Linked DNA regions of Homo sapiens: region 2 is linked to region 1. The links come from fine-mapping of genetic effects on gene expression. A gene starts in region 1. The other region holds a variant in brackets. All regions are shown on one strand. Distances are from middle to middle.

Evidence for each region. PIP is the estimated chance that this variant, and not a neighbour inherited with it, causes the effect.
Region 2: its variant is fine-mapped to the expression of SLC39A3 in whole blood (TOPMed, PIP above 0.99).

Annotation. Positions count from the first base shown.
Region 1 is chr19:2,737,796-2,743,164 of GRCh38, reverse strand. SLC39A3 (solute carrier family 39 member 3) reads left to right here and starts at 3,148. Exons shown (of 3, transcript NM_144564.5): 1 at 3,148-3,220. RefSeq lists enhancers at 2,867-2,916, 3,617-3,666 and silencers at 2,977-3,376, 3,785-4,052.
Region 2 is chr19:2,708,808-2,714,176 of GRCh38, reverse strand. No RefSeq gene overlaps it. Among named protein-coding and RNA genes, the nearest start is that of GNG7, 8.8 kb to the right of the region's middle. RefSeq lists an enhancer at 3,607-3,686. The variant G/A (reference allele first, on the strand shown) is at 2,857.

The DNA of each region.
Region 1 (5,369 bases):
GAATCCATCGGATGGCTCAAAGCAGAAAACCAGAAGTCACCCCCAACACCTCCTTCTCCTGCAACCCACACAGACAAACCAGTGCTAAGTCCTGTCAATTCACCCTCCAAAATATTTCTCAAATTCACCCACTGTCCTTTCTCCTGTCAATGCCCTCAGCTAAACTACCGTCAAGTCTTTTCTTAGAAATAGAGATAGGGTCTCACTATGTTGCCCAGGCTGGTCTCGAACTCCTGGGCTCAAGCGATCTTCCTGCAATGGCTTCCCAATGTGCTAGGATTACAGGTGTGCGCCAAGGCACCCAGCCCAACTCTTGCCCAGAGGGCTCTGAAGTAGTCTCCCTGCTTCCATTCTTGCTTCTCTATAATTCAGCCTTTCTTTACACACGAGTCAAAATAATCTTAAGAATTAAAATTAGATGACAACCTTCACCTACTTAAAATCCTTCAATGAATCACACTGTAATTACGGTAAAATCCAAGTTCCATAGCACGGTCTATGGGACTGTCCCTAATCTCCCATCTCCCTACTGCTCACGAACATTCAGCCAGGCTGGCTTTCCAACTCCTCAAATGCAGCAAGCCCTTCTCCATCTTTTTGTCAACTATCCTCTCTTCTCTCCCCACTTCTCAGTACTTTTTTTTCTTTTTTTTTTTTTTTTTTGAGACGGAGTCTTGCTCTGTCGCCCAGGCTGGAGTGCAGTGGCATGATCTCGGTTCACTGCGACCTCCACCTCACAGGTTCAAGCGATTCTCCTACCTCAGCCTCCCGAGTAGCTGGGATTACAGGCGCCCACCACCACGCCCTGCTAATTTTTATATTTTTGGTACAGACAGGGTTTCACCATGTTGGCCAGGCTGGTCTTGAACTCCTGACCTCAAGTGATCCACCCACCTCAGCCTCCCAAAGTGCTGGGATTATAGGTGTGAGCCACCACACCTGGCCTTCTCAGTACATTTGACTTGGCTAATTCCTGCACAGAAGTCTCTCTCATTCTTTCTTCACAGAACTTAGTACAACCTATAGTTTTTCTAGTATGTATGTGTATTAGTTACCTACTGCCATATGACAAATTTTCCCCCAAACTTAGTGCCAGCAGGCATTGTGGCTCATGCCTGTAATCTCAGCACTTTGGGAGGCTGAGGTGGGAGGGTTTCCTGAATCCAGGAGTTCAAGACTGGCCTGTGTGACATTAGGTAAAAAATTAGCTGGGCATGGTGGCACATGCTCCCAGCTACTCGGGAGGCTGAGGTGGGAGGACTGCTTGAGCCCAGGAGGTCATGGCTGCAGTGAGCTGTGATTGCACCACTGCACTCCAGCCTGGGTGATGGGGCAGGACCCTGTCTCAAAATACAAGCAAACAAACACAAAACTAAGTGGCTAGAACAGCATGTGTTATCTCAGTTTCTGTGGGTGAGGAATTCAGATGCAGTTCATATGGGTCTTCTGTTTTCAGGGTCTTTGTTTTTCTTTCTTTCTTCTTCTTCTTCTTCTTTTTTTTTCTTTTGAGACAGGGTCTCACTCTGTTGCCCAGGCTGGAGTGTAATGGTAATGATTTCAGCTCGCTGTCACCTCTGCCTCCTGGGTCCAAGTGATTCTGATGCCTCAGCCTCCTTAGTAGCTGGGACTACAGGTGCCCGCCACCATGCCTGGCTAATTTTGGTATTTTTAGTAGAGATGGGGTTTTGCCGTGTTGGCCAGGCTAGTCTCAAACTCCTGACTTTAAGTGACCTGCCTACCTCGGCCTTCCAAAGTGCTGGGATTATAGGCATGAGCTACCACATGCAGCCCTGTTTTAGGGTGTTTCAAAGGCTGCAATTGAAGTGAAGCAGTCATCCAAAGGCTCAACTGGGGCAGGACCCTCTTCCATGATCACGTTCATGGCTGTTGGTAGCATTTGGTTCCTTATGGACGCTTGTGCTGAGGGTCTCATTGCCTTGCTGACTGTTGGCTGGAGGACACCCTCAGTTCCTTTCCCTCTGGATCTCTCCAGCATCTTAGCTTGCTTTGTCAAGACACGTAGGCTGAGAAGGCGAGAGACAGGCTCTGCTGGCAAAACAGAAGTCACAATCTCTCATAGCCTAATCGCAGAATGACATCCCATTCATTTGCCATTTTCTATTTGTTAGAATCAAGTCATCAGGCCAAGCGCAGTGGCTCATGCCTGTAATCCCAGCACTTTGGGAGGCCAAGGTAAGAGGATCACCTGAGGTCAGGAGTTCAAGACCAGCCTGGCCAACATGGTGAAACCCCGTCTCTACTAAAAACACAAAAATTAGCCGGCATAGTGGCACACGCCTATAATCCCAGCTACTCGGGAGGCTGAGGCAGGAGAATCGCTTGAACACGGGAGTCGGAAGTTGCAGTGAGCCAAGATCGCGCCATTGCACTCCAGCCTGAGTGACAAGAGCGAGACTCTGTCTCAAAAAAAACCTTTTTTTTTTTTTTAGAGATGGGGTCTCACTATGCTGCCCAGGCTGGCCTTGAACTCCTGGACTCAAGCGATCCTCCCGCCTCGGTCTCTTAAAGTGCTGAGATTACAAGTGTGAGCCACTGCGCCCTGCCAAGATTTGGTTTTTAACTTACGCGTTACCTCCTATACTTATTTTTTCATGGTTTGAACATGTAACATCTACTTTCTTAGCAATTTTGCAGTATGCAATGCATTGTTACGAGCTGTAGCCACCATGATGTACAGTCGATCTCTTGGACTTACTCCTCCTGCCTATCAACAGAGATTTGTTGAAGGGATGAATCTGCTTCTTCAGCCGTCGGTAAGGGGATCAGCAGCGAGGACGCTGAGAGAGGAGCCGCCTCCGTTGGAAATCCCTTCCCATCCACCTCCAAGCCTCTTTCCAAGCGGGATTCAGCACCAGGCGCCCCTGGACAGCTCTGGAAACCCAACCCTGCCGGAACCGTTCCTCGCCAATCCGGGTTTCCCGCCGGGGCCGCTTGGTGGCTGCGCCCGCCGCTCAGCGGGAGGAAACCCCTTTCCTGTGCCGGTAGGAGAGGTGGAGTCGCATATGAGTGGCAGGTTTCGCAGCCAATAGTATGGAAAGTTCTGCCAGCGGGTCTCGGGGAGGCCAATGGGCAGGGGCGTGGGCGGGGCGTGGACCAGCCGCGCCGAGCGGGGCCTCTCCGGGCCGCGTCTGTGGGGTCGAGACTGCGCGGCCGTTGGGCGTGCAGCGGCGCCAGTCGGCGGACGAGGGGCCCCCGGGAGGTAGGTGCGGGCAGAGAGAGGACCTGGGGCGGCGGGGCGGGGCGGCGCTGAGCGGCCGGGGGTCTGTTGGACTCTACCCGCACGTTAGCCGAGGCCCGTCTCCGGTGCCCGGTAGCGCGAGGCACACAGAAGGCGCTCAATAAGTGCTGATTGAATGAATGAGCCCGTGCCCTCCTCATCCCGGCCCGAGCAGCCTCCGGTTTGAGAGCGTGCAGGCCACCCTCACCTTCACTGTACAGACTGAGGTATCCAGATGCCGGACAGGTCTTTATTGGGCGCCTACTGTGTGCCTGGGTGGCTCTGCGCTGGGTGCAGCTGGCCCTGAGCAAGACAGACAGCCTGGTCCCGCCCAGCTCACCGCCGGGGGGGAGGGACGACTTTAAATGACTTAAAATAATGTAATTCCTAGCTCCCTCTGTAGCACAAAATAAAAGAAAATAACACCAGGGAAGGGGGCGGGGAGAGCTCTGAGTGGAGACATCTGAGCAGTGACCCGAAGACCTGAATGCAGTGAGGTAGCGGGGCCATGAGGCGCTTGGGGCTGATGGTGGGGGAGAAAACCCAGTTGGGGAAAACTCAAGGACAGGGGAGGAGCTGAGATTCCTCCTAAGAACGGTGACATTTTGGGGTCCAGGGTGAAACCGACTTCACTTTGGCCCATTGCATCAGGTAAAATGCGGCCCTTATCAGTGGCCACACGCTTCCCCTCGTCCATGTGTTCAGCCAGCGGTTTTTGAGTATCTGTTCTGCAGCAGGCCTTCCGGCGGGTACAGGGATATGGTTTAGGGCAGGAGTCAGCCAGGGGCAGAGAGGGAGGCCCTTTTTTTTTTTTTTTTTTTTTTTTTGAGACGGAGTCTTGCTCTGCAGCCCAGGCTGGAGTACAATGGCGCGATCTCGGCTCACTGCAAGCTCCACCTCCTGGGTTGAAGCAATTCTCCTGCCTCAGCCTCCCGAGTAACTGGGATTACAGGCACGTACCACCATGCCCAGCTAATTTTTTTTTTTTTTGAGACAGAGTCTTACTCTGTCACCCAGGCTGGAGTGCAATGGCTTGATCTTGGCTCACTGCAACCTCCACCTCCTGGGTTCAAGTGATTCTCCTGCCTCAGCCTCCCAAGTAGCTGGGATTACAGGTGCCCACTACCACACCCAGCTAATTTTTGTATTTTTAGTAGAGACAGTGTTTCACTGTGTTGGCCAGGCTGGTCTTGAACTCTCGACCTCAGGTGCTGGTCTCGAACTCTCGACCTCAGGTGATCTGCCCACCTCAGCCTCCCAAAGTGCTGAGATTACAGGTGTGAGCCACCACTCCCAACCGAGGGAGGCCCTTTTGAGGGGTCCTGGATGCAGAGAAGCAAGAAAGAAGAAGGAGGCCTCGCTGGAAGGTCAGGGGAAAGAGAGCAGTGTTCCAGGTGGAGAGAGGAGAACCCATGCAGAGGTCCTGAGGCACGAGCAAGCTTGGCACAGAAAGGACCAGTGAGGGCCGAGGCGAGGCAGGAGCTTGTCATGCAGAGCTTCAGCCTCAGGGTACAGAGTTTAGACTTTATTTCGGGGCATGGGGAAGCCATGGACCACCACCATCCAATAGCATGTTCTGCAGTGATGAGAGTGTTCCCTTTGCTGTCAAATACGGTAACCACAGAAGTCAAGTAGGCTTGTGTGACTACTGAGCGCTTGAAATATGGCCAGGGAGACTGAGGAGCGGAATTTTGTATTTTATTTAGTTTTTTTTTTTTTTTTTTTTTGAGATGGAGTTTTGCTCTTGTTGCCCAGCCTGGAGTGCGGTGGTGCCATCTTGGCTCACTGCAACCTCTGCCTCCTGGGTTCAAGCGATTCTCTTGCCTCAGCCTCCAGAGTAGCTGGGATTACAGGTGCCTGCCACCACGGCCGGCTAATTTTTGTATTTTTGGTAGAGACGGCGTTTCACCATGTTGTCCAGGCTGGTCTCGAATTCCTGACCTCAGGTGATCCACCCACCTCGGCCTCCCAAAGTTCTGGGATTGCAGGTGTGAGCCACTACACCCAGCCTGGATTTTTTTTAATTTTGATGAACTTTTTTCTTTTTTTGAGACAGTGTATTAGTCAGGGTTCTCTAGAGGGACAGAACTAATGGAATAGTTATATATATAAAGGGAAGTTTATTAAGTAT
Region 2 (5,369 bases), 29 kb after region 1:
TGGGATGAAGGGTGGAGGAAGTGGTGGGTGTAGGAAGTGAGGGATGGTGTGAAGGGTGGAGGAGGTGATGGGTGTAGGAAGTGAGGGATGGGGTGAAGGGTGGAGGAGGTGGTGGGTGGAGGAAGTGAGGGATGGGATGAAGGGTGGAGGAGGTGATGGGTGTAGGAAGTGAGGGATGGGATGAAGGGTGGAGGAGGTGGTGGGTGTAGGAAGTGAGGAATGGGATGAAGGGTGGAGGAGGTGGTGGGTGTAGGAAGTGAGGAATGGGATGAAGGGTGGAGGAGGTGACGGGTGTAGGAAGTGAGGGATGGGATGAAGGGTGGAGGAGGTGGTGGGTGTAGGAAGTGAGGGATGGGATGAAGGGTGGAGGAGGTGACGGGTGTAGGAAGTGAGGGATGGGATGAAGGGTGGAGGAGGTGGTGGGTGTAGGAAGTGAGGGATGGGATGAAGGGTGGAGGAGGTGACGGGTGTAGGAAGTGAGGGATGGGATGAAGGGTGGAGGAGGTGGTGGGTGTAGGAAGTGAGGAATGGGATGAAGGGTGGAGGAGGTGACGGGTGTAGGAAGTGAGGGATGGGATGAAGGGTGGAGGAGGTGGTGCGTGGAGGAAGTGAGGGATGGGATGAAGGGTGGAGGAGGTGATGGGTGTAGACAGTGATGGATGGGATGAAGGGTGGAGGAGGTGATGGGTGTAGGAAGTGAGAGATGGCATTAAGGGTGGAGGAGGTGGTGGGTGTAGGAAGTGAGGGATGGGATGAAGGGTGGAGGAGGTGATCGGTGTAGACAGTGACGGATGGGATGAAGGGTGGAGGAGGTGATGGGTGTAGGAAGTGAGGGATGGGATGAAGGGTGGAGGAGGTGGTGGGTGTAGGAAGTGAGGAATGGGATGAAGGGTGGAGGAGGTGGTGGGTGTAGGAAGTGAGGTATGGGGTGAAGGGTGGAGGAGGTGATGGGTGTAGGAAGTGAGGTATGGGGTGAAGGGTGGAGGAGGCGATGGGTGTAGGAAGTGAGGGATGGGATGAAGGATGGAGGAGGTGATGGGTGGAGGAAGTGAGGGATGGGAGGAAGGGTGGAGGAGGTGGTGGGTGTAGAAAGTGAGGGATGGGGTGAAGAGTGGAGGAGGGGACCTGTGTAGGAAGCGAAGGATGGGATGGTGGTGGGGAGGTGGAGGGAGTGGGTTGAGGACATGCAGCAGGGGAGGCAAGGCAGGACCCGTCTGGGACTCTGCTTGGAGATGTCTTTATGTGGCTTTTTTCTAGGGTGTTGGTTTCCAGATTCACTCTGTGCACATTAGCTGGGGACATCCTCCCAGCTGGACTTTCTGTGAACGTGGACAATTTCCTTGCAGGCCCAGTGGCGTTGGGGCAGAGGAGACTGTATTAGTCCATTCTTGGAATGCTATAAAGAAATACCCAGGCCGGGCACGGTGGCTCATGCCTGTAGTCCCAGCACTTTGGGAGGCCGAGAAGGGCATATTACCTGAGACCAGAAGTTTGAGACCAGCCTGGCTCACATGGCAAAACCCTGTCTCTACTAAAAATACAAAAAATTAGCTGGGCGTGGTGGCGGGAGTCTGTAATCCCAACTACTAGGGAGGCTGAGGCAGGAGGATCACTTGAACCCGGGAGGCGGAGCTTGCAGTGAGCTGAGATCGTGCCACTACACTCCAGCCTGGGTGACGAGAATGAAACTCTGTCCAACCCCCCGCCGCCCCACAAAAAGAAAAGAAATACCTGATACAGGTAAATGATAGAGAAAAGAGGTTTAATTGGCTCATAGTTCCACAGCCTGTGCAGGAAGCATGGCAGCAGCTGCTTCTGGGAGGCCTCAGGAAACTTACGGTCATGGGGGAAGGCAGAGGGGAGCAGGCAGGTCACTCGGCCGGAGCAGGAGCACAGGGGAGGAGGTGCCATACCGGATCTTGTGAGAACTCTATTATGAGACAGGACTGAGGGGTGGATCCATTCATGAGGATCCACCGTCATGATCCAGTCGCCTCCCATCAGGCACTACCTCCAACACGGGACTACAATTCAACATGAGATTTGGGTGGGGACAGAGAGCCAAACCATGTCAGGGGACCTTCCCTGCTTGTCCCATCTGCCAGCCCAGCCCCCACCCCTCACCCCTAACCCAGAGCAGGCTGGGGCAGGGATCTGACCTGAAGAGGTAAGGCGTTGTTCAGGACCAGACTGGAAGGAAGGAAGAGCTGAGACATCATTCATTCACGTATTCATTGGTTCATTCATTCATTCATTCATCCAGTATGTAAGAGGCACCACTCTATGCCTGGTCCTGCCCTGATGCTGGGGACACAGCAGTGACAGACACCAGCCCCAGAGCCCCCTGCCTGCTCAGAGAGCATAACCCACTGGGGACGATGATTCCCTATGAAGAAGTGGATCAAATCATCGCAGACACATGCTCCCTACGCAGAAGATAAACCTGCATCACAAAAGTGACGTGGCTGGGAGTCCCAGGCCTTCTGAGGTCTGACTCAGAAGCTGACGTGTTTGCTGATGTGGGAAGCGGGGGAGAGGCCAGCTCCAAGGGGACCTGGGACGGAGCACTGGACAGGGGGACCAGCAAAGGTGTCAAAGCAGGAACAGGTGAGGCCTGGCTGGGAGGAGTGGAGGGAGGAGAGGGAAGGTGGCCAGTGAAGTTGAAGGTCGCCAGCAGGGGTCAAACAGTGCCTGGTGGGCTGTGGGAAGAGTTTGGACTTTCACGAGAAGGATGCCAGGGGGTTACGGGAACATTTCAGCATTTCCCTCAAGAGACCTCGAGGGCCCCGCTGTACCGTGTACTTACCGCAGCTGGCTGAGGAGGTCGGACAGGCACTAAGAGCCCTATTTTACAAA[G/A]GCAGGAACCCACAGGACCTCAGCTTCCCTATCTGTGTAATGTGAATGTATGGTTGGAGTCTGGCTTGCCAGGATCCCAGGAGGCGGGAGAGGGCCGTGGTTAGTGATATGTCCTCCAGGTCAGATGTGAAGATGGTGGGATCCCAGCTGCAGCTGCAGGGAGCATAGCACCTGCCTGGGACCCCCTCCTCTATTTCTCCAAGTGACCATGGGTTTTGAGACACCCTCTTTTAAAAATTATTTTTTTTTTGAGACGGAGTCTTGCTCTGTCGCCCAGGCTGGAGTGCAGTGGTGTGATCTCGGCTTCAAACAATTCTCCTGCCCCAGCCTCCCGAGTAGCTGGGATTACAGACGCCCACAACCATGCCCGGCTAATTTTTGTGGTTTTAATAGAGATGGGGTTTCACCATGTTGGCCAGGCTGGTCTCAAACTTCTGACCTCAGGTGATCCACCTGCCTTGGCCTCCCAAAGCGCTGGGATTACAGGCATGAGACACCGTGCCTGGCCTTCATTGCAATTTTTAAAACGTTTTATTTATTAATAATTATTGATTCACGGGAAGGTACAAGGAGGTCTGATGCACCCTGCACCCAGCCCCCCAGCTATGTTTACATCTTGCATAACTGCAGTATAACCTCAAAACCAGCACAGTGGAAGGATGCAAGCTTCACTGGATTTGCATGCACTCATCTGAGTGTGTGAGTGTGTGTGTGGTTTATGCAGTTTTATCACACGCATAACTTCCTCTAAACACCGTCACGAGATACTTTTTTTTTTTTTTTTTGGTCAGGGTCTTGCTCCGTCGCCCAGGCTGGAATGGTGCAGTGGTGTGAACACAGCTCACTGCAGCCTCAATCTCTTGGGCTCAAGTGATCCTCCCACCTCAGCGCCCCCCGAGTAACTGAGTAGCTGGGACTACAGACACATGCACGTCACCACATGTGGCTAATTTTCTTTCTTTCTTTTTTTTTTGAGACGGGGTCTGGCTCTGTCGCCCAGGCTGGAGTGCAGTGGTGCGATCTCGGCTCACTGCAAGCTCCGCCTCCCAAGTTCACGCCATTCTCCTGCCTCAGCCTCCCGAGTAGCTGGGACTACAGGCGCCCGCCACCACGCCCGGCTAATTTTTTGTATTTTTAGTAGAGACGGGTTTCACCGTGTTAGCCAGGATGGTCTCAATCTCCTGACCTCGTGATCCGCCCACCTCGGCCTCCCAAAGTGCTGGGATTGCAGGAGTGAGCCAGCACGCCCGGCTAATTTTCTTATATATATATTTGTAGATATGGTGGGGGGGTCTTGCCATGTTGCCCAGAATGGTCTCGAACTCCTGGGCTCAACGGATCTTCCTGCTTCGGCCTCCCAAAGTGCTGGGATGACAGGTGTAAGCCACTGCACAAACAAGACACTTAAGCGACACCAAAGACTCCCTCGTGATATCCCTCCTAGCCACGCTAGCCACCCTCACTAATGCAATATGTATGTATTTGAGAGTCTTGCTCTGTTGCCCAAGCTGGAGTGCAGTGGCATGATCTCTGCTCACTGCAACCTCTACCTGCCAGGTTCAAGCAATTCTCCTGCCTCAGCCTCCCGAGTAGCCGGGATTATAGGCATGCACCACCACGGCCCAGCTAATTTTTATTTTTTGTATTATTAGTAGAGATGGGGGTCTCACTATGTTGGCCAGTCTGGTCTTGAACTCCTAGCCTCAAGCAATCCTCCCATCTTGGCCTTTCAAAGTGCTAGGATTACAGGCATGAGCCACTGCACCTGGTCCTAATGCAATATTTTTTTAAAAATTGACATGAGTACAAAAAATCTGCATTGAACAAAATTTTAAAGTCCCAAATAAAGACAGCATCCAACCTTCCCCTGAGAGCCTCAGGCAAAAGGAAAAATGTGTGCATGTGTACATATACCAAATATTTAAGCATCTTTACATATCTTTCTATTTTTTTGAGACTGTCTCAATTTGTTGTCCAGGCTGGAGTGCAGTGGTGCAGTCTCGGCTCACTGCAACCTCCTCCTTTCCAGTTCAAGCGATTCTCCTGCCTCATCCTCCAGAGTAGCTGGGACTACAGGTGTGTGCCACTGTGCCCATCTAATTTTCTTTTTTCTTTTCTTTTCTTTTTGTTTTTTTTGAGATGGAGTCTTGCTGTGTTGCCAGGCTGGAGTGCAGTGGCACGTCTCGGCTCACTGCAACCTCCGCCTCCCGGGTTCAAGCGATTCTCCTGCCTCAGCCTCCTGAGTAGCTGGGACTACAGGTGCGTGCCACCACACCCAGCTAATTTTTGTATTTTTAGTAGAGATGGGGTTTCACCATGTTGGCAAGGCTGGTCTCGATCTCTTGATCTCGTGATCCACCTGCCTTGGCCTCCCAAAGTGCTGGGATTACCGGCGTGAGCCACCGCGCCCGGCCCAGCACCTTTATATATCTGTATGCATTTTTAGTGGTTGATTTTTTCCAGAAGTAGATTTTGAAAATATGACTGATGATTTAGTAGGATTTGCTTCTACT